Linked DNA regions of Homo sapiens: region 1 is linked to region 2. Evidence: fine-mapped expression QTL. Tissue or cell type: whole blood. Region 2 holds a variant in brackets; the other region holds the start of a gene. All regions are shown on one strand. Distances are between the middles of the regions.

Region 1 (11,040 bases), 53 kb before region 2:
AGCCATCAGAAAGATGAGGGAGAAGAGGCAGAAGGAAACCGTCGGGCAGATGCTAAGGCCAAAATTGCTGCCAGGCAGAACCTCCCATTCCTGCAAAAAACTGGGTCTTTACCAACTTAACATACCACCCTCGTTTTGAAGGAAAAGACCCTTTCCGACTTCTAAATATGCAATCATTAGCCAACTTCCCCATCTCTGATAGGACCAAGAATACCCTAACAGGACATGCGATACAACTTTTGCGTTCTTACATTTCCAACCTCACCTATTACACAAGCAATGAAAAGCCCATACACAGCCCTGTAACTACAAATACCATCTTAACTTTCCAAGCCCCTTTATGCATCCAATGCAACCTGTTATCAGGTCTGCTCCTGGGGCACCTACTACCACATCAGTGTAATTACACCATACAACTTCAAGCCCCAACTGATCATAGTAACTTCCAAGTCACTCAAACAGCTCCATTCAGACGGCTTGTCCACGTCTCAGGGGCCCCCAAAATCATCACCTCCTCCCTGCTTAACAAACAGTCCAGGTTTTGTAATGGCAAACATACTCTCTGCATGACCATTCACCCCTGGACCCCCTGCAGCAGTATCCCCACCACTAGTGAATGCCATCTCATCCCCTCTTTCAATCGCTCTCTCGAATGGTTCCTAGTAGATACAAAATGGTTTTTTCTCCAATGGGAAAATAGAACACAGGGAGCCACTCAGTTTGCTCCCAACACCCCTTTCCAGCCACTCATAGCAGCTATCTTGGCAAGTATTCTAGGAGTATAGGAAAATGAAAACAATAAACTCACACACCTTTATAACATACACAACCAGTTCTGTCTACCCAGCCAAGGTATATTCTTCTTATGTGGAATGTTGAACTATATCTGCCACCCCACTAACTGGAAGGCACCTGCACCTTAGTATTTCTAAGTCCCGACATTAACATTTCCCCAGGAAATCAGACCCTATCAGTACCCCTCAAAGCTCAAGTCTGTTAGTGCAGAGCCATACAACTAATACCCCTACTTATGGGGTTAGGAATGGCTACTGCTACAGGAACCGGAATAGTCAGTTTATCTACTTCATTATCCTACTACCACACACTCTCAAAGGATTTCTCAGACAGTTTGCAAGAGATAACGAAATCTATCCTTATTCTACAATCCCAAATAGACTCTTTGGCAGCAGCGACTCTCCAAAACGGCCGAGGCCTAGACCTCCTCACTGCTGAGAAAGGAGGACTGTGCACCTTCTTAGGGGAAGAGTGTTGTTTTCACACTAACCATTCAGGGATAGTATGATATGCCACCTGGCGTTTACAGGAAAAGGCTTCCAAAATCAGACAATGCCTTTCAAACTCTTATACCAACCTCTGGAGTTGGGCAACATGGCTTCTCCCCTTTCTAGGTCCCATGGCAGCCATCTTACTATTACTTGCCTTCGGGCCCTGTATTTTTAAACTCCTTGTTAAATTTGTTTCCTCTAGGATCGAGGCCATCAAGCTACAGATGGTCTTACCAATGGAACCCCAAATGAGCTCAACTAACAACTTCTACCGAGGACCCCTGGACCGACCCGCTGGTCCTTTCACTGGCCTAAAGAGTTCCCCTCTGGAGGATACTACAACTGCAGGGCCCCTTCTTTGCTCCTATCCAGCAGGAAGTAGCTAGAGCAGTCATCACCCAATTCCCAACAGCAGTTGGGGTGTCCTGTTTAGAGGGGGGATTGAGAGGTGAAGCCAGCTGGGCTTCTGGGTCAGATGGGGACTTGGAGAAATTTTCTGTCTAGCTAGAGGATTGTAAACACACCAATCAGTGCTCTGTGTCTAGCTAAAGGTTTGTAAACGCACCAATCAGTACTCTGTAAAAACACAGCAACCAGCGCTCTGTGTCTACCTAAAGGTTTGTAAATGCACCAATCAGCACTCTGTAAAAATGCACCAATCGGTGCTCTGTGTGTAGCTAAAGTTTTGTAAATGCACCAATTATCACTCTGTGAAATGGACCAATCAGCGCTCTGTAAAATGGACCAATCAGCAAGATGTGGGCGGGGCCAAATAAGTGAATACAAGCTGGCCACCAGAGCGGCAAGCTGCTCAGCTTCCCTTCCATGCTGTGGAAGCTTTGTTCTTTTGTTCTTCACAATAAATCTTGCTGCTGCTCACTCTTTGGGTCCACACTACCTTTAAGAACAGTAACACTCAACACGAGGGCCCGTGGCTTCATTCTTGAAGTCAGTGAGACCAAGAACCCACCAGAAGGAATCAATTCCGGACACACTATTTTCCAACAAGTTCTCCATCTGGCTTCTATTTTAAATTCATTAAAAGTAGGATAACATCATATGGAATGTAAAAAATTGCCAAAACTGAGGGCAATTTATGCAACTGCTGAGATTCACTCCAGATCCTCAGAGGAACTTGCTATGTAATGAAAAAAGAGATACACAATCCATCATCCCATCACAGGAGGCAAAATGAACTAACTTCTAGGCCAGAGGAGAGAGTAACAAGGGAGGGAAGGATTCATTACAACTGGAGGATCCTGGAAGGCTTCCTAAAAAGGGGGCATTTGAGCCTAAAAAGGGGCCATTTGAGCCTATCGGATGATTAGCTTTTGGCAAGGAAAGAAGGGAAATGGCACCCATGATTTCCTGACTCCCAGAAAGCCCCTGTCCCAGCTCTGAATGTCCCAACTGACACATTCTCCCAGGCCCTACTTATTCTCTGCACCTCCCTTGGTATACCCCACTTTTCACAATAATCACTCTTTCTACCTTGCATTATAGTTAATTGTGTGCATGCCTTATTTCTCTTGCTAAGCCATAAGGTCTTTGAGGAAATGGAATCCATTCACTTCATTTCTGCTTCCCCATCCACTGAGCCCAGAACTGGCCCATCACCAGCCTCTAATATATGCCTGGAATGTATGGATAAATGAGTGTGAACTGGGCCAGTTTTAAAAAGTGTTCAGATTCCTTCAGACATTTATTTAATAATATGAATTAAAACATCAACTCTGTGTGAGGCATTTGTGCTAAGTGTTGAGGATAAAAGTGGTACACATGGGCATGGGCCTACCCTCAAGAAGCCGATCACATAAAGTGGTGGCAAACACTAAATAAATGAATAAATATTTGTTGAGTTGCAATGGTGACTATTTTTAAGAAGGAAAAATAGAGAACAATGACAGATGAAATGTACCTAGATTCACAAGGTGCCAGGCACTGGGCACTACCCACGTGTTAACTCATTTGGTCCTTATCACAGTCCTAAGAGGTACAACCTTTTTACAGATGAGAAAACTGAGACACAGGAGAGTCAAAGAACTCCCCAAGACTAATAGCTAGTAACTAGTGTGGCTAGTATTATGGGAGAATTTCACAAAGGGACCTAATCTAGTCTGTCTACTTAGGGAAGGCTTTCCCAGGGAAGTGACATCAAGCTGAGGCCAGAAGGGTGAATAAAGGTGGGCCAGGCAAAGAGGCCACTGTGGGGAGTGTTTTGGGTGGGAAGGCCTGGAGGAGGCCAAGGGCTTAGCTAACTTGAAGAACTGAAAGGAAAGCAGTGAAGCTGGTGGTGAGGTAGGCAGAGGCCATGCTAAGAAATTTGTATTTTATGCTAAAAACAATGTACACTTTAAGTAGAAAAGATGATCCGACTGGAGTTTTGAAAAGCTCATCCTGGCAGCTGTAGAGGAGAATGGAGGGGGACCCTGTCTCACATATTTCCTATATGTGGTTAGGAGACAGGATGGTGAGTTGAATTGGGTATTGGCAGTGCAGGTGGAGGGGTGTCAGATTTGCTATATTTAGGAGAGAGAAGCAAGAGAATTTGAAAATTGGTTATGGCAGCTGTGAGAAATGGAGTGTTGAAGATGGTGCTCCAGGATTCCGACTTGGGTGCACAGGTGGCTGGTGGTACATTTAGTAAGATGGGGAAGATGGAGTTCAGGTTTAAGGGGAAGATGAAGACTGAAGTCCTGGCCGTTATGAGTTTGAAGCCCTATGAGCCATCTACGCGGAGAGAGCTGTATACGCTCTTGGATGTGTGTTTAGCGGCCAGGCTGGGGTGGAGAGGTACATGTGGGAGTTGAGGCTTGTATCTGTGGACCCACAGAGAAGGGAGCCAAGCCCTGCCCCAAGGAGCCCTCATGTTTGCAGGTCCTGCCTGCTTCAAATGTTACTGGTGATAACCTACATGTCACATTTGACAGGGCTTCCAAACTAAGCCATCTAAGAAAGGTCTTATGATTCATGGCTTAGATCCTGTCCCTGAGTAAAAAATCTTACTGTGAGTCCTTCAAATCCTTTTGTCAGTTCCTCAAACTGCTGATGTACTGATTAGTATGTAAAATACTGACATTGAAAAGAACACTGACTTGTTTCTGAATCATATAAACTTTGATTTTCTTGTGCACAAAACATTTTAGCCTGTATGTTGTCATCTGCAGCCAGTGACTGTAACCTGTGTACCATACCCTCCGATGAAAAAAATCCCACCTCTGATATAAGGGGTCCTCCTCCCTTTTCCTAAACTTTCTTCTAAAACCCTTCCAACGTGTAACAAATTTTGAAACATGCCCAACTTTGCTGGTAAGTCTTCTTGGGTGGATCCTCACATTTAGCTTCCAATAAATCAAATTATTTCTACTTCAACAGCCTTAATTTCCGTGGACACTGGTCAGAGTATTTCCTCCTGTCTTTCCATCATCCACTTCCTATGAGCTGTTCAGAAGCAGCTCTCTGCAGCCCCAACACCCACCTACCTGCAGGCCCCCCTCTCTCTGCTGGCTCCCGGAACAAGGCTCTGATTGGGATGGCAGAGGAAAGAGAAACGGGACCAGCAGCGCTACTCAGGCCTCGAAACTCCACACTCACTACCGTTTCCGCGCCACCCTCTCACGCGGAGCTCCTGGAAGGGTCCAGCGCTCCCTCTGCAAGGCACCGTCGGTCTACACCGCTCGATTGGCCTTTTATGGCACTGACTGTTCTTTGAAGCTTTTGCAGCTCCTTCTAACCCGATTTCACCGTGTTGGAAATGTTGGGGGTGGGGCGTAAAGGGGGCCATCCCATCCACAGAAAGAGTCGCTTGCAGAAATGATTTTAAAACTCCCGGGTGCCAGGACGTGAGGAGAATCCGGCAGGGAGGGACGGGAGAATTTCCAAAGGTGCCGCTCAGTGGGAAAATCCCTTTGTCAGAGAGTGGCCCGAGGGGCGCGGAATGCAGCCGCGCCCACCCCGCCCCGCGTCACCGCGTCTTCCGGAAGCTCCACGCCCCTGGGTACTTGGTTTCCCCGCATGGTTCCGGAAGAGCGCGGCGCAGCTGGCTGTGAGCGCAGGGCTATCCCGGCGGCCGCTTCGGCAGCCAGGGCGGCGCGGAGGGGCAGGGCCAGAGGGAAGCGCTTTGTTCCGCGCGTGGTTCCCGCGCCTGGGGGTGCGCGGGAGAGGCGCGAATCCGAGTGCCGCGCGCGGCCCGGGGACTTGCACGGGCGTGCGGGGTGGAACCGCAGGAAGCGGAGCTCTCGGGTTCCCGCCCCGCCCCGCCCCGCCGGCGGCGGAGGCAGCGAGCGCGAGAGCCCAGCGGAGTCGCTGGGAGCCTGAGGCACCGAGACACAAAGGCAGGCGGGATGCGGGAGCAGGCAAAGGGAAAGCGAAAGCCGCGCGCCCGGCCGGTGACTGGGTGAAGGCGCCGCGCAGCTTTCCCGACGCCGGCTGTACCCGGACCTCCTGGTCGAGCCTGGCGCGCCGCAGCCATGGCCATCGCTCAACTGGCCACGGAGTACGTGTTCTCGGATTTCTTGCTGAAGGAGCCCACGGAGCCCAAGTTCAAGGGGCTGCGACTGGAGCTGGCTGTGGACAAGATGGTCACGTGCATTGCGGTGGGGCTGCCCCTGCTGCTCATCTCGCTGGCCTTCGCGCAGGAGATCTCGATTGGTAAGCCTCGCCCAGGACGGAGGGGAGTGGCCGCCCCGGTCTGGCCCGGTGAGCTGCGATTTTACGGCTCACAGGCCCGAGTCTGGGTACGCCCAGCTGTGATGGTCGTGAGCGTCAGGAAGGGCAGTGGCCCCAGTTTTATGGTCCAAAGCGTTCTTTGCCCAGGTGTTTCATTGGTACCCTGGTCTACTCTGCTCGCATCCCTACTCCTCAGTTCTTTTGTTCCTCATGCCCCTCTGATCGGACTGTGGCTTATAGTTTATGTTCCACCCTTAGAACTGGCACCTTGCCACCAGATTTGCCAAGAATAGCTGTGTCCCCGTTTTTCACCCCTGTCTCCTACATATTTGTCCAGCCGCCTAAAATTTTACACCAGAGAAGTTCCTGAGTGGCTACATGGAGGATGTGAAGACCGGTGCTCCATGAGAAGTGTGTTCTTTCAGTGTCTTACATATAATTGGTATTTGCTGAGATCTTAGCTCTCTAGGGTTGTGAATGATAGGAAATATCTGCACTTGGCAGGCATTAGAGGGATCCTCAACTTGGACGGTCTTACAAATGTGAGATGAACAAGTCCCCTTCCTGTAAATTATCATTTGAGCTTCATAACAGTTGTGTGAGATTGGAAAGTCTGGTGGTTTGGGCAGGATCACGTGGCTACGTGCCTTACCTTCCTCATCAGCTGTTCTGACTCTCCACACAGGAGAGAGTGTTTATGAACCAACAGGAAGGTAGCGCAGGAGGGTTAAATACAGTTCTGTGGCAGGGGAAGAGAGAGGACCCAGTGCGGCTGGACTTTGGGAAAACTTTTGTCAGAGGGTGGGTGGGATTTGGACAAGAAGGAGTAAGACCTTTGTTAAGGTTTTGAGATGGCAGAGAATGTTATATGTTCCTGGAAAGAGAGACACAGTGACTCTCCTAGCCAAGGCAGGAGGATAAGTCAGAGTTCCTGGAGTCTGAGAGTGAATATGGGCCTGGGTCAGCCTGGAACAGAAGAGTGTAGGCTGATGGTTTCAGAACTGTGAAGTTATTGTTTGAGCAGAGGACAGACTGGTTGAATGATGGTGGCATTTAGGGTCTGGGAAGAAGGTGAGAGGATGGGGCCTGGAGGGCTGGGTGCCAGAGAGCAAGGCATCGGCTGAGGTCTTGTGCACAGAGGGTGTGAAGAGTGGAAGAAAATGGGTGGGTGATTGCTGTGCGATCAAGGAGTAAATAAGCAGCACTTGAGTACCTAGTATTTAATAGGCCATGAACGGCAGTACTGGTCAAACGTGCTGCGGAGGTTGTATGTCTGGGTGAGTGGAGTGTGGTGTTGGTGGTGATGGGAATTGTGAAGTTGAGGGAATAGTTGATTAGGAAAGAATGACTATGAGTGTGATTTTGCAATCTGCAGCACTAAGTTGTTCAGCTTGGCAGGAAGTTGCCAAATTCATTGTGGAAAATAGTTTTTAGTTTTCCTGCTCTTTGCGCAGGCATAGTCATCGGGATGTTCTTTAAGTTTCCATTTGACAGTGGATTGAGGCTTCCAGCTGAAAGCAAAACCACCAAGTAGCATGAGTCCTGGAGATAATCTCTCCCTTTGGTCAATTCCTCCTTCAGTACTGGCTGTGTGCTGAACTCGGTGCTGACCTCCAAGGACCCGGGAGTAAAAGAGGCATGATCCCTGTCTTGGAGGTGCAAGTCTTGGGTACCTGGTTGGGACAGAAAGGCAGGAGGAAGGAGTTAGTCACCCTCTGTGACCAATCTCCACCTCTAGCACATGTACTAGAGGGACTCCTAAGGCACCTGTACCTGTAATGCCTTAGATACGTCTAAATTGGTGGGCTGTCTGAGAGGTATTTTTGGGGTATTGGGAGTGGTTTTAACTAGCAAGAGTTTGAGCTCATGCTGTGTGCATAGCACTGTTGTGTGCTGAGGGAGATGGGAAAGGATTTTGAGACCTTGTTCTTGCCCTGCCCTCTCCCTGCCCTGTGGCAGTTTACTATGCAGTTGGGCACTAGAAGGTATCTGTTAGCAGGTAAGTCATTCAGCTGTGTGTAATTCAGCACCCAGCCAGGTGTTGAGCTATGAGCTCCAGGCTGGTGAAGGTTGGCAGGCACTTGGGTGAGGAGCTGTCAAGCAGACTCCCATGTTTTCTGAAGTGTTTTCAGGAGTTCCAGGGGAGGACAGACATGTGGGATGAAGCTAACAGGACCAGGGAAGACCTATTAGATTAGGTATACATTTAGATAAAACCAGAAGAAGGGCTTTTGAGAAGAGGGGAGAGGTACATAGATTAATACATGGAGTTGGTACAGTGGGAGGGATCATGTCATGCAGCATTTAATTTTGTGTAGTTAGTAGTATGCACTCAGCCAAAAACAAACCAAAAAAAAGAACAGCAATAAAGGGAGAATGAAGTAATTGAAATGGAGCTGGCACTTTGCCCACCATATTGGCCAGTGAACTCAGGCCCCGGGAAGACACTGAGATAAGGCCTGCAGACTTAAAACATGGCTTCATCCTTCCTCTGTTGATAATTACTGCTTCCCTCTCTGGTGCTTGGAATACTCTTTTGTTGAACTTAACACAGAGCTTTATAACCTGTCTATGCATGTTTTGCATGGAGATTGAAACTACTCTATAAACATTTGTTGTGAATTAAAGGTGATAGCTTTTGGCATCATCAGACCTTGCTAATTGATTGTTATGTGCATGATGCTGTACCTTGGCAATGGGGTGTCAGACACACGTAGGACATAAGAATCTTTCCTCTGGAAGCACGGTCTAGTAGAGAAGTTGAACGCATAACCCTCCTAATGCAGGATTCATGGAACCTGGGCAGTGTCAGAAGTGTGTACTAAAGCCTGATGCTGTGGAAAGGCAGAAGGAGGGGTTTCTTCTGACTCATGAACAGTGAGAGTTTCAGGGCAGAGTTGGCCCCTGAGGCAGGATTCCAAGTGTGTGGAGCAGTGTTGGCTGAAGCTGAGACGTGTGAGACAACATGTGGCTGCTGGAGCTTTAGTGGCACCGTCACATGGAGAGGTGGGAGCCAAAGTAAGGGTCCAGGGGCTCCACATGAAAGAAGGCATAGCAAATCCCATTGTTTTCCTGTTTGTGTTGGGGGGGTGGTGTGTGTGTGTATAAAATTAGAAACGAGAAAATCAGCTGTAATTACATGTTTTTCCTTTTTCCACCTGTATGATAAACTAGTATATATAAGAATTCATCTCTTTTGATATAAAATCCCCTCAAGCGTAAAATAAATTATATTTTCCAGTTACTTTCCAAAAATTAAATTTTCTGTCAACTGTTGTTTGATAAAATAGGGTTCAAGTTGAAACTTTGTGGCGATTTTTCCTTTAAATAAATGATTTTTTACTTTAAAGAAAATCTATTAAATCAAGAAATGTGCATGGATTGTGCTTTAGATTTAAGAGCAGGTTCTCTGTGGGGGTGGGAGTGTTGTAGGTTAGAGAGAGGGAATGTCCTCATATGATAAAATACTTGGCTTCATATTAAAGGCTTCCGTTTGGTCTTTGGCCTTTTCTCTTAGTAGTTCAGCCCACTGGGCTCCTCTCAGAAAAGAGGGACTGAGCCTGCCTGGGCCACAGAGACCCATGGGCATAGCAGCAGGCTGATCTTTATCAAGCCCTGCTGGGTGCCAGCATGGTGGCTGCAGGTGAAGCGTCCACTCCTCAGAGGTTCTGGCCCCTTCCCTCCCACAGCAGTTCACGCAGGTCCTGCATGGTAGGCACTGGTGTGGGGCTACCTGGGCTGGTGGGGACTGTGTTGGGGACAGAGAGCAGAAGGGACTCTGCCTTGCTCATTCACCAGATCTTGGTCTGGCTGCCCACAATCACAGGTTGAGGGTCACTGCAGAAGTGATGTGGTCTGGAGGGGCATGGCAAGGCTGGTGCCATGGTCAAGGTGGAGGCAACTTTGGTAGTCTTTGCGGCAGCCACTCATTGGTCCAGATGTGCCCTGTGATAGTGAGAATTACAAGCAGAAACCCTCCTGAGGGAGTGGCAAGGAGACTCTTCTGAGTTGTGCCTGGGAGCATTTTGAAGGCTTTTGGACAGTGAGATACTAAGGATTGAATGTAAGAACTAAAATGTGCACCTGTCTGGTTAGGCCTGATACTTCTAGTCAGCCTTTCTAAAATACTGCAGGTGTGCCTCCTCTGAGATTCAGCTGGGTAGGGGGAAAATAAGTGACACACAGCAAAAGACAGTTTAATTGTGAGTTTGGGCTAGAAAGGCTGTGTGGTGGGAGCCAGAGAAGGGAGAATCAGTGGTTTCACCAGCCCTCATTTTTCCTTCCTCTTGTCTTCTACCATGTCTTGCCCTCAACAAGTGCTCCATAGGAATTTAGTGAAGGAAGTGCCAGAGCACACTAGGGAACTCTCCCAGAGTGGCTGTGCTGAGGGAATGGACGGAGTGTTCTGGATAAGGGTCCCAGTTGCTTGGAAGTGCGCCCTCTGAGTGCCATTTAATGATACAAGTGCTGTCCTGGGTCAGGCCTGTCCTGGCCACCTCCCAGACACCTGCCTCTGATGATAGCAGTAAAGGATGCACATCGTCATGATAGGTAAGTTGTCCCACTTGATTTATAAGCTCAGGTTATATTGCGTGTGCCTCAGATTCTTTTTTATGTTATTTTTGTGATGAGGAAGAATCTGTGTTCAGAGTGCAGAATGGTGTACTGTGGAAGAAGGATGAGTGTGATCTGTGTGGCTTGGGTACCCTATGGGTGTCACCTTGTGCAAGCTGCTGGGAGACAGTGCCTTGAGGCCCTTCATTTCTAACACATCTACTCTCAGATGCCTCTAGAAGTGCTGCACATTTCATTGATGGGGGGAGAGGTTTAGGAAATGGCTGGGCGACAGCTTTGTGTAGAATATAAGCATGATTGCATGACGTGACCTTCAAGCTCTGAAATTCTAGAAGTATTTCTCTAAAGTTATGAATTCCCTTAGTGTGCTGCAGTTATGGACTGAATGTTTGTGTCTCCCAACCGCAAAATTCATATGTCGAAGTCCTGATCCCCAATGTGATGCTAATTGGAGATCCCTTTGGGAGGTAATTAGGTTTGGATGAGATTATGAGAGTGGGACCTTCATGAT
Region 2 (9,292 bases):
GGACTGAACATAACGTGTCCACCTAGCTAATCTTTTTGTGGTTACCTGGAGTGTTTGAGTGCCTGTTCTATGCCAGGCCCTTTGCTAAGCATTTTCCATCAATTATCTCCTTTAATCTTCATGACACCTCTATTCCATGACCATTTCATACATAAGGAAACTGAGGGTCAGAGACTTTGAAAACTAACCAGATGGATGGGCTAAATGCTGGGGACAGCGGGAGCCATTGCAGGTACCTGAGCAGGGTGAACTTGGCGGTTCCAAGAGTTAAGCCTCAGTAATGGTGTACAGGAGAGAATAGAGGCAGGGAGAGCCACTTGGTAAGCACAGAGTGAGGGTTCTAATTAGGGAACAGAAAGGAAAAGAAGCAGTTTTGTCCAAGAAGGCAAAGAGCAAACAAAAAGCAATACTCTTATGTCTTATTGCTGATTAGAAGATCACGCAAAAGGATAGTCGAAAGTGACATCAAGGGCCTAGACCAGGGTCAGCAAACTTCTGCAGAGGGCCAGATCATAAAGTTTTTTTGTCATTGCAGATCACATGGTCACTGTCGCAGCTACTTAGTTCTGCAGAGTAGACATGATTGCCCAAGGCCGCAATGCTGAGCTTCAATTCAGATCTGCACTGACTGCAATTTACGGTCTTCCTAAGTCTTCTGCTGAGGCTAAGCCACCTCTGACCAACTGGTGGTCCTGGTTACTGGGGTGCTCCTCACCCTCTCTGACGTGTGAATCCCCTCTTGTTTGGTGTGTGTCTGCACCCTGATGTGGATGCTCTCCTCTTGATTCCCTTGCCCGTTGTGGATGGCCTCTCTGAGCCCAAGTTTATCCAACTATACGATGAGGGTGTTGGACTGCCTTCAAAGTCTGTTCCACATTCATTCTGCATTCTGTGAATTCAACTGCTTATTTCAGCTGTCTTATTGGGATGATTACTGAATCACTGAAGTCGAAGCTTTTCTAATTTGTTTTGGGGGAAGTTACATGTTTCTTTGGCATTTTCCCAGATTCCAGAGTAGGGCAAAAATGGAGCCGTATGCCTTAGTTGCTTCTTAAAACCATAAAAGTTAACAAAAACCCAGCAGAAGCCTTCGTGATAGCTGCAGGTTTCTTAACTGGGATTTTGTTCAGGGAACGGGAGTAATTTTATTTTTTTATTTTCCTTCTGTGATTAGAACGTACACACCATGTGTCACCATGCAGTTGCTGATTACTTCAAATTAATACCTATGGAAGAAAAAAAAATAGGTAGTTACCTGTGACAGGTATTACCTGGACAGGGGAATTTAGCCATAAGAAGTAGTTATTAGGTAATGAGCCCAATTTCCACAATACACATTTGTCTCAAGATGTGAGAAAATGAGAGCATCACTTGGCGCCATAGGTTACTGCATGGGGGGTTTGTTAAGCCCATGATTTGTTCTCTTGTTTTTCAGTTTTTCCCCTACATCCTGCTGCTCTTTGCGATCCTCCTGTACCTGCCCCCGCTGTTCTGGCGTTTCGCAGCTGCTCCTCATATTTGCTCAGACTTGAAGTTTATCATGGAAGAACTTGACAAAGTTTACAACCGTGCAATTAAGGCTGCAAAGAGTGCGCGTGACCTTGACATGAGAGATGGAGCCTGCTCAGTTCCAGGTGTTACCGAGAACTTAGGGCAAAGGTAACTTAGCCCCAGCAGGCAGCTCATCGGGTTTTGTAGGACAAATTCTCTGCCCTTCTACTGCCAGTCTGGGCCCAGAGTTCTCATTGCTAGGAGGCGGGGCAGGAGTGGAAGCAGGGGGACGTCATGCACCTAGTGACAGCCTGTAGTATCCCGGGATGTCCACTCTCCCCAAATCTCACCGCGACCCATCCTACCCATTTGTTTATCCTTCTGTCAAGACTCATTCCCTTGATGAGTGAAACATTACATCTCATTTTAAAAATGCAGTTCTTGTAGGGGTAACAGATTGAGGTGCTATATGAAGCTTGCTTGCTTTGATCTATTTAACTCCTTAATGGAGACGCACAGAGGATTTCAAGGCAGCTGAGCAAGGGATGAGAGAGAAATGGGGAATGAGTAGGTCGTGGCTTGCCTTTTCACAACCTTCTTTTGGTTCTTGTTATTGAATAATTGGAATAATAATAAGAGCCATCATTTTTTGAATATTTAATATATCTCACACACCGTATTGAGTTATTTAAGTACATTATCTCCTTTAACCCTCAGAGCAACATTACTAGTGCATTTGTTAACCTCCTCCTCCACTTTTATTCTGGATAAAAATACTCTTCTGTAGCTGTAAGTGAGAGTCTGGGAACTGAACCATGCCCTTTAGACCCCATAGTTTTTGCCCATACCCCCTGAGTTGTCCCACCCCTTGCCTGTAAGAGGCGTATGCTTACACATATTTAGGATTTACCAGATGCCAGGCATCACTCTAAAAATTTCCAAATATTAACTCATTTAATTAACTAGGCCTTCTGTTAAATATTAAGGGGAAAAGCATTTTATTATTCCTTTTCTTCCTCCTCTTTTAAACGGATTTTATTTTTGACTACTGACGTTGTAGGTAAAGAAGTATGGGTGTTTGAAATTTTTAGTGTGACATTGTTGAATGTGTATCTGCCTTTAATATTTGATGGTCTTGATGAGTGCCTAAGTTATTTTTGTTTCCTTTATTTTTTAGTTTGTGGGAGGTATCTGAAAGCCACTTCAAGTACCCAATTGTGGAGCAGTACTTGAAGACAAAGAAAAATTCTAATAATTTAATCATCAAGTACATTAGCTGCCGCCTGCTGACACTCATCATTATACTGTTAGCGTGTATCTACCTGGGCTATTACTTCAGCCTCTCCTCACTCTCAGACGAGTTTGTGTGCAGCATCAAATCAGGGATCCTGAGAAACGACAGCACCGTGCCCGATCAGTTTCAGTGCAAACTCATTGCCGTGGGCATCTTCCAGTTGCTCAGTGTCATTAACCTTGTGGTTTATGTCCTGCTGGCTCCCGTGGTTGTCTACACGCTGTTTGTTCCATTCCGACAGAAGACAGATGTTCTCAAAGTGTACGAAATCCTCCCCACTTTTGATGTTCTGCATTTCAAATCTGAAGGGTACAACGATTTGAGCCTCTACAATCTCTTCTTGGAGGAAAATATAAGTGAGGTCAAGTCATACAAGTGTCTTAAGGTACTGGAGAATATTAAGAGCAGTGGTCAGGGGATCGACCCAATGCTACTCCTGACAAACCTTGGCATGATCAAGATGGATGTTGTTGATGGCAAAACTCCCATGTCTGCAGAGATGAGAGAGGAGCAGGGGAACCAGACGGCAGAGCTCCAAGGTAGGGTTTGCTTTTGGCAGAGGCTACGGGAGTCTACCGAGAGCCTTTGCAGCAGCCTTGTGGGAATATTGACAGTCTTTACCCTGCCCATCATTTAAACCATTTCCAAGCATTAAAAACCTTAATACCAAGGTGCGGGGTAGGGGGAGTGGGAACCCCTCAGTATAAGGAGAGAGAGGAAAAGAATTGGTGCTGCTCTACATTTCCAAAGAAGAATAACTTCTGTGCTTTTTCTGGTTTTTCCCTCTTCTCTGTCTGTCTCACACTCTCTCTTGCTCAGCAATCTTCCTTGTCTTTCTTGCTTATTTTTGTCTTATCTTACTGGCTTTCCTTTCTACCTCTGATCTCCTTCTCTGTTACTCTCTGACTTTCTCTTTCAAAGGGGACTAAAAGTTTATTGATTCTTTTAGTTAGGCCAAGAAGCAAAACATGGTATAGACTGTGAGAGGAATTTTTGGCAGAAGAAAAATTGATTAGTATTGGTAATTCCTGCTATGTTTCTGTCATAAATATTTGTTTTCAATTTTGACAGGTATGAACATAGACAGTGAAACTAAAGCAAATAATGGAGAGAAGAATGCCCGACAGAGACTTCTGGATTCTTCTTGCTGATGATTTTTTTCCTTGAGCTGTAAATCTGTGACTTCTGCGACATGGGATTTAATTTGGCTAAAGCACCCCTGTTGGTTTCACAGCTGGTTTGCAATAAATGGTTCTTGGTGGAGATACTGAGCATGTCTTATTGAGTCCCTAATGGAAATGGTGATCAACAAAAGGTTATGGAAGAATGGTTTATGAACTTCCCATAGGAAGCACCTGAGAGATAGTAAACTGCAGCAAGTAACTATGTGTAAGTCCTCATCAAATGAAAAGCAGAAAGACAAGAACAATTAGTCAAGAGCAGTAGCCCTGTCAGAGCCTCGGAGCAATACCTTTCTGTACCCGTGGTGAGACAAGACCCAGAGCTACTGGAAAACAAGCACTTTGGAAGATTTGTTTTGTTTTCATGGAATAATAATATGTCAGGGTATAATTTAACGTGAGTTTCTTATGTGCCCTTAAAGACTGTTAGACAAGAAAAGCATTCACTGGCTAATAATCCATAGGTCGACCTATGTCCTAAGTTAGGTGTAAGGTCCGATGCCTTGGCCCACACTCGAGCTCTCTTTACATTGTTAGTTGTCAACCTTGGCTGATGGAAATCCCGTAACCACTATTTGTTGCACTGTGCCTTGAAGGGCAGCAGGCCCAAGTGCTGCTCTGACTGAAAACTGAGTTAACAAGATGAAATCTAAAGGATATTCACAGTGACTTCAATTCAGGAAGAATGCTTCCAAAAGAGCCCAGTGGGGAAATCTGACATCACAGAAGACATTAATTCAGTCACTTTCAAAGAGTTTGTCTACAGGCGGTTTCTCTGTTATCAAAGGCATTTGAAATAGGATTTTACTTAAACAATAATGGAACACAGGAGTATTTAAAGTGAAGAACACTTTGCCTGAATGTGATCAGGGCACATAAGTGACATTGGCATGCTTCATATGGCGTGCTTGGAGCCAGAAAAACTTAGCGGTTTATTTTGTTTATATTTAAGCACAGCTTTAAAAAATTCATTATCGTTTATTCAGTGTCCGAATTGAGGCCATTTGGGAAGAAAATTCTAGCACTGGTGGAGAATTA[T/C]AGAATAAAGATTATAAATGGTTGGATAAGACAAATGTAAGCTTATTTCATAAACATTTAAAGCTGATTCAGAACATGTTAAAAACTGTTCCCAATTCCAACTATGTAAATAGATCCTATGTTCACATTTTACACACACACACAAAAATCTTTAACATCTGTGGAACTTCCCAGTTTTAGTCTTAGAAAGTTAGCATGTTGCATAAGTTCAGTAATCCTCAGGAACCTCCAAGTTTACTTTTAGCTCTTACGGACAGTTGTTTACATAATCTAATTACTGTTTTCTGAAGAACGGAAATTATATAAGCTGCTGTCTGCCTTTTGGAATATTCAGAAAAGCAGATTTTATTTGTACTTCTGTGATGTTTTCTGAAATGGAAAGCTGATGATAAATATCAAAGTAGCAATCAGTGCGTTAAATTATTCTGTTACATGATATTTATTACTGTTGAATTATTCTGTGACTTAGAAATGGCAGTAACCTAAATAATGGAATTTGCAAAATTATTATATTGCCGTATCTGAGATGTTCCATCACAAGTTTCTACACTGGTTTCTTTTGAAAATTTAAAAAGATTTACGAGATACATTTTCTAGGATATGATTTTTTTTTTACAAAAAGCTTCATCTTCTGTAGACTATCCTTAATTTCTATTTTGAAACGGTAAAAATTGATATTTTAGGACACCAGGAAGTCTCCAAGCCATTCCCACTCTCTGAACTCCAGTAGGGTCTGTGATGTCCCAGGCACCAGTACCAAGTTGGATGTGCAGATATGCATAGGCAGGTCCCATCCTTGAGGACTTCAGAGTCCAGTAAAAGGCAGCAGAAACATGGGCTGGTGCCTAAGAGGAGAAAGCGTAGCCACAGTAAAGGCTATGCCAGAAAACTCCTAGCAAATGCTCTGTGTTCTTGGGAGAGGGCACATTGTTTTTGTTTTCTCTCCTATAGTTCCTGTAACTGCTGGTTTTGAGAATATAGTAATCATTTTTCCCAGAGGCAGATGACCACCTTAAGGTTCTTTAGCTGCAAATCCTCTAGGTTGAAGTTTGTGTGAAATAGTCACAGTGATTTTGAATAGTAAGGAATCCAGTTGCCTTTTGAACCTTCCCTCACAGGGATGAGAGAACAAGCCTGTGGAGGTTGTGGAGCTACTGGTAAACAACTGTCAGGGCCCCAGAAGGCTGATGTGGAGGCCTGGGGATACATTTCATCTAATAAAAGTATTACTAGGTATCAGTATCAGTAATAAAAGTATTATAATAAAGTATCAGTAATAAAAGTATTATAATAAAAAGTATTATTAGGACAGGTAAACTCATCCATCTACTGTGAGCTGCTGGCTTGGAGAACGACTTTTGAGGAGCCAGTTTCCTGAGGAGAAATGCTTTTATAAAGCACTCATTGCTTTGTAAAAGGAGACAAAACTGATCCTAAATGACCACTCCAGGGTTGCTGATTTTGTTTCTGGCTCATGTCTGCCTAGTAAACCACCAGCAAGCTGCTGAACCAGGCTGGAAACAACATTGTTGCAACTGGGAGGGACATAGAGTACTGTGAAAGCAGCGTTCCAACACATCTTCACTTTTACAAAGGGATAGGCAGAGACTTCCAACATAGAGGTTCTTAAACTTCGAGGGGTTACAATCCCCTTGCAAATATTTTTATAGCTATGGACCCTCTCCTCAGATCTACAGCCAACATTTTCAGTGCACCTTAGGAGGTCATTTTAGTCCACGCCTCTGAAAAAGCTGCACTCCAACGGCTGAAGAGCAAGCCATACGGCCGAGAATGGGGCTCCCTTTGCCTTCATGAAAGCTACTTCCCCCAACACTAAGACTCAGCTGTACGTTTGCTTAGCTCAGTCACATTTACATTCTTCTGGGTGAACTGTACCTTTTGAGTACCTGCCTTCATTTTCTAGAATCAGACCTAACAAGGTCAGTAGAAGCCTGGGCAGCAGCAGGCCTGGAAAGACGAGGCAGCCAGCATGAACTGCTGTTCTCTCCCTGACCACAAGGCGTCGTCTTCCTCCAGGGTCAAGTAATTGTTCTTGTTCCGCCTCACAGGAATGTGGGGAGGAAGGACGTAACACTATAAAATGCTGCGTCCTACCTTAAACTTGTACTGTGAGAAAGCTGGAAACTTCCACCTGTACAGTGGGTCTGGTTTGCATGTTTAGTTTCATTTGTGGGAACTGCTTGTCCAAGAGTGAGCTCAGGTCAGGGCAGTTTGTGCCTATGAGAATTAGCTCAGCTATCAGGCAGGTTTTTAGACACCTTTTTAAAATGTGCTCGTGTTTGGTTTGTTTTGCTTACTGTCAGTCCTGGGTCAATCAAAGGTTTGTAAGGGTGAGAATTTTTATGCACTGCTATATCGCAAGTGCTTAAAACAGAGACTGGCCCAGATGAGGCATTCTTCAAATGTTTGTTGAAATGAATGGACAAACTCTTAGGATAAATCCTAATTTGTTGGCAACTGTTATTTGATTTTAGAAGGCAAACTGATTTTATTTTAGAGAGGGGAAGGGGAGGGGAGGCTCATTAGCCTCTTGGTAGAAAGAGGACTATTTCTGCAAATGAATAGGTTTCCACCTTAAGTAGTGACAGTCCTTAACTTCTTATTATGGAGTGAGTCTTGACCGCTTTCCAAGTTCAATAGAAGTTCAAGATTGCCTCTCAGTGATTAGGGAAATTGAAGCTTTTAAAGCTCCTGGTCTCAGTAATTCCTCAGAATAAACCTCTTTAAAAGGGATATTGATGGAAATGTACAATTACCAGTAATTGAGGTTTTATCTGAGGGGATGGAGATGATGAAATGGTTCCTTCTTGGAAGTTGTTGGCATTTTGGCTTTATTTTTCACAAATAAAGTGAAACCATTTAAAACGATTGACAACGATTATATAGTGCCATGTGGAATACAATAGATATTAATTTGTGGTTGGTTTTTCTGCCTGCTTTAAATGAAATGTATTATGTTTCTGGGTTCCTTTTTTAGCTGTAAAAATACTTCGTCACTAAAGCATGAAATTTAATCAGCAGTTGTTCTTCAAGTTCCTGAAAGCTATAAAAGTTTCTCATGACTTGAGTGGTTTTTTCCCTGCCCACCAGAGGAGAAAGCCCTTGTAGAATTCTGCAGTGTTACAAGTGTTCCCTACAAAAACTGAAACCATCAGCTCCTCTTTAACAAGTTGGCTTTTTAAAAGCACGTAATTACAATTTAATGGTATTCTGTAAAGTGGTGCTTTAGGCATAATTTAAATTCTTTTTAATGACTATATTTCTTCAAAACTTTGAAAGAAAAATGTGTTCTTTTTGCTGCATCCTTTGTAAGAAGACTGCCAACAGAGGAAAAAGGACTTTACAAATTAAGACCATCTTGGTTTCATTTCCACAAAGATGAGAACAAATCATGGTGTTAGGAAAGGATCCTTAGAAGAACACAAGAATTTGAAAGCCCTTGGTGGTTATCACTACTATATTTCATATTTCCACAGAAGTGACTTAGCCAAGCTCTGCATTTTGAGCCTGCTGACTTTCATTTAAAAGGAATGAAAGGCTGAAAATCCAGGCTGCTGTGTCTGTAGATAAAGGTCAAACCATGTTTGAGTTCTTCACTGTTGTGTCCACCTAAATAAAACTGAGTAAGTAATGAAAAATGTCTTAATATTTCTTGCCTTCCCTTTAGGGAGAGTCATTTCATGGAAGATGTAATGGGAGATGCATTCCAAAATGTCTTGAGGCTCATTGCTGTCTGCTGGAAACATAAAATTCCATAGGCTTCATGCTGCTTGCTAAAATCCAGCTGGCAGTGACTAAAGAAAGAGAGTCCTTGATTAAGGGCCCACAGATTCTGGAATTTCTAAAGCACAAATCACTTGCTTTCTGATTGAGGATTGTTTGCCTGGGCTTGGGAAAAAAAGATCAGCAACCATGTGCTACTAAACATGGGTTCTCCTGCTCACCTCTCTCAAGAGGAGGACTCCTTTGTACAATGGTTAGTACAGCTTACTATTGTGGGTAATCAGAGCCATGTGAAATTTTAGTGCCATTCCTGGCATATCACAAATATAGTAAATTCTCTCTAAGTGCTAGCTTTGACTATCTTGCTCACCAGCTATTCCCAGGGTGGCAACCCCAGGACCCTTGGATGTTGTATTAGTTTTCTATTGCTCCATAACAAATTAATGCAAACTTAGCAGCTTAAAGCAATACACATATATCATCTTGCAGTTTCCTGGGTCAGGAATCTGGACACAGCTCAGCTAGGTCCTGTGCTCAGGGATTC

What was found. PIP is the estimated chance that this variant, and not a neighbour inherited with it, causes the effect.
Region 1: it holds the start of PANX1, and the variant in region 2 is fine-mapped to the expression of PANX1 in whole blood (TOPMed, PIP 0.99).

What each region holds. Positions count from the first base shown.
Region 1 is chr11:94,123,558-94,134,597 of GRCh38, forward strand. PANX1 (pannexin 1) reads left to right here and starts at 5,284. Exons shown (of 5, transcript NM_015368.4): 1 at 5,284-5,936. The coding sequence starts at 5,756. RefSeq lists enhancers at 5,217-5,276, 5,597-5,856, 9,676-10,175 and a silencer at 5,507-5,576.
Region 2 is chr11:94,176,934-94,186,225 of GRCh38, forward strand. PANX1 (pannexin 1) reads left to right here. Exons shown (of 5, transcript NM_015368.4): 3 at 1,436-1,659; 4 at 2,669-3,324; 5 at 3,857-5,035. The coding sequence ends at 3,936. Among named protein-coding and RNA genes, the nearest start is that of PANX1, 53 kb to the left of the region's middle. The variant T/C (reference allele first, on the strand shown) is at 5,005.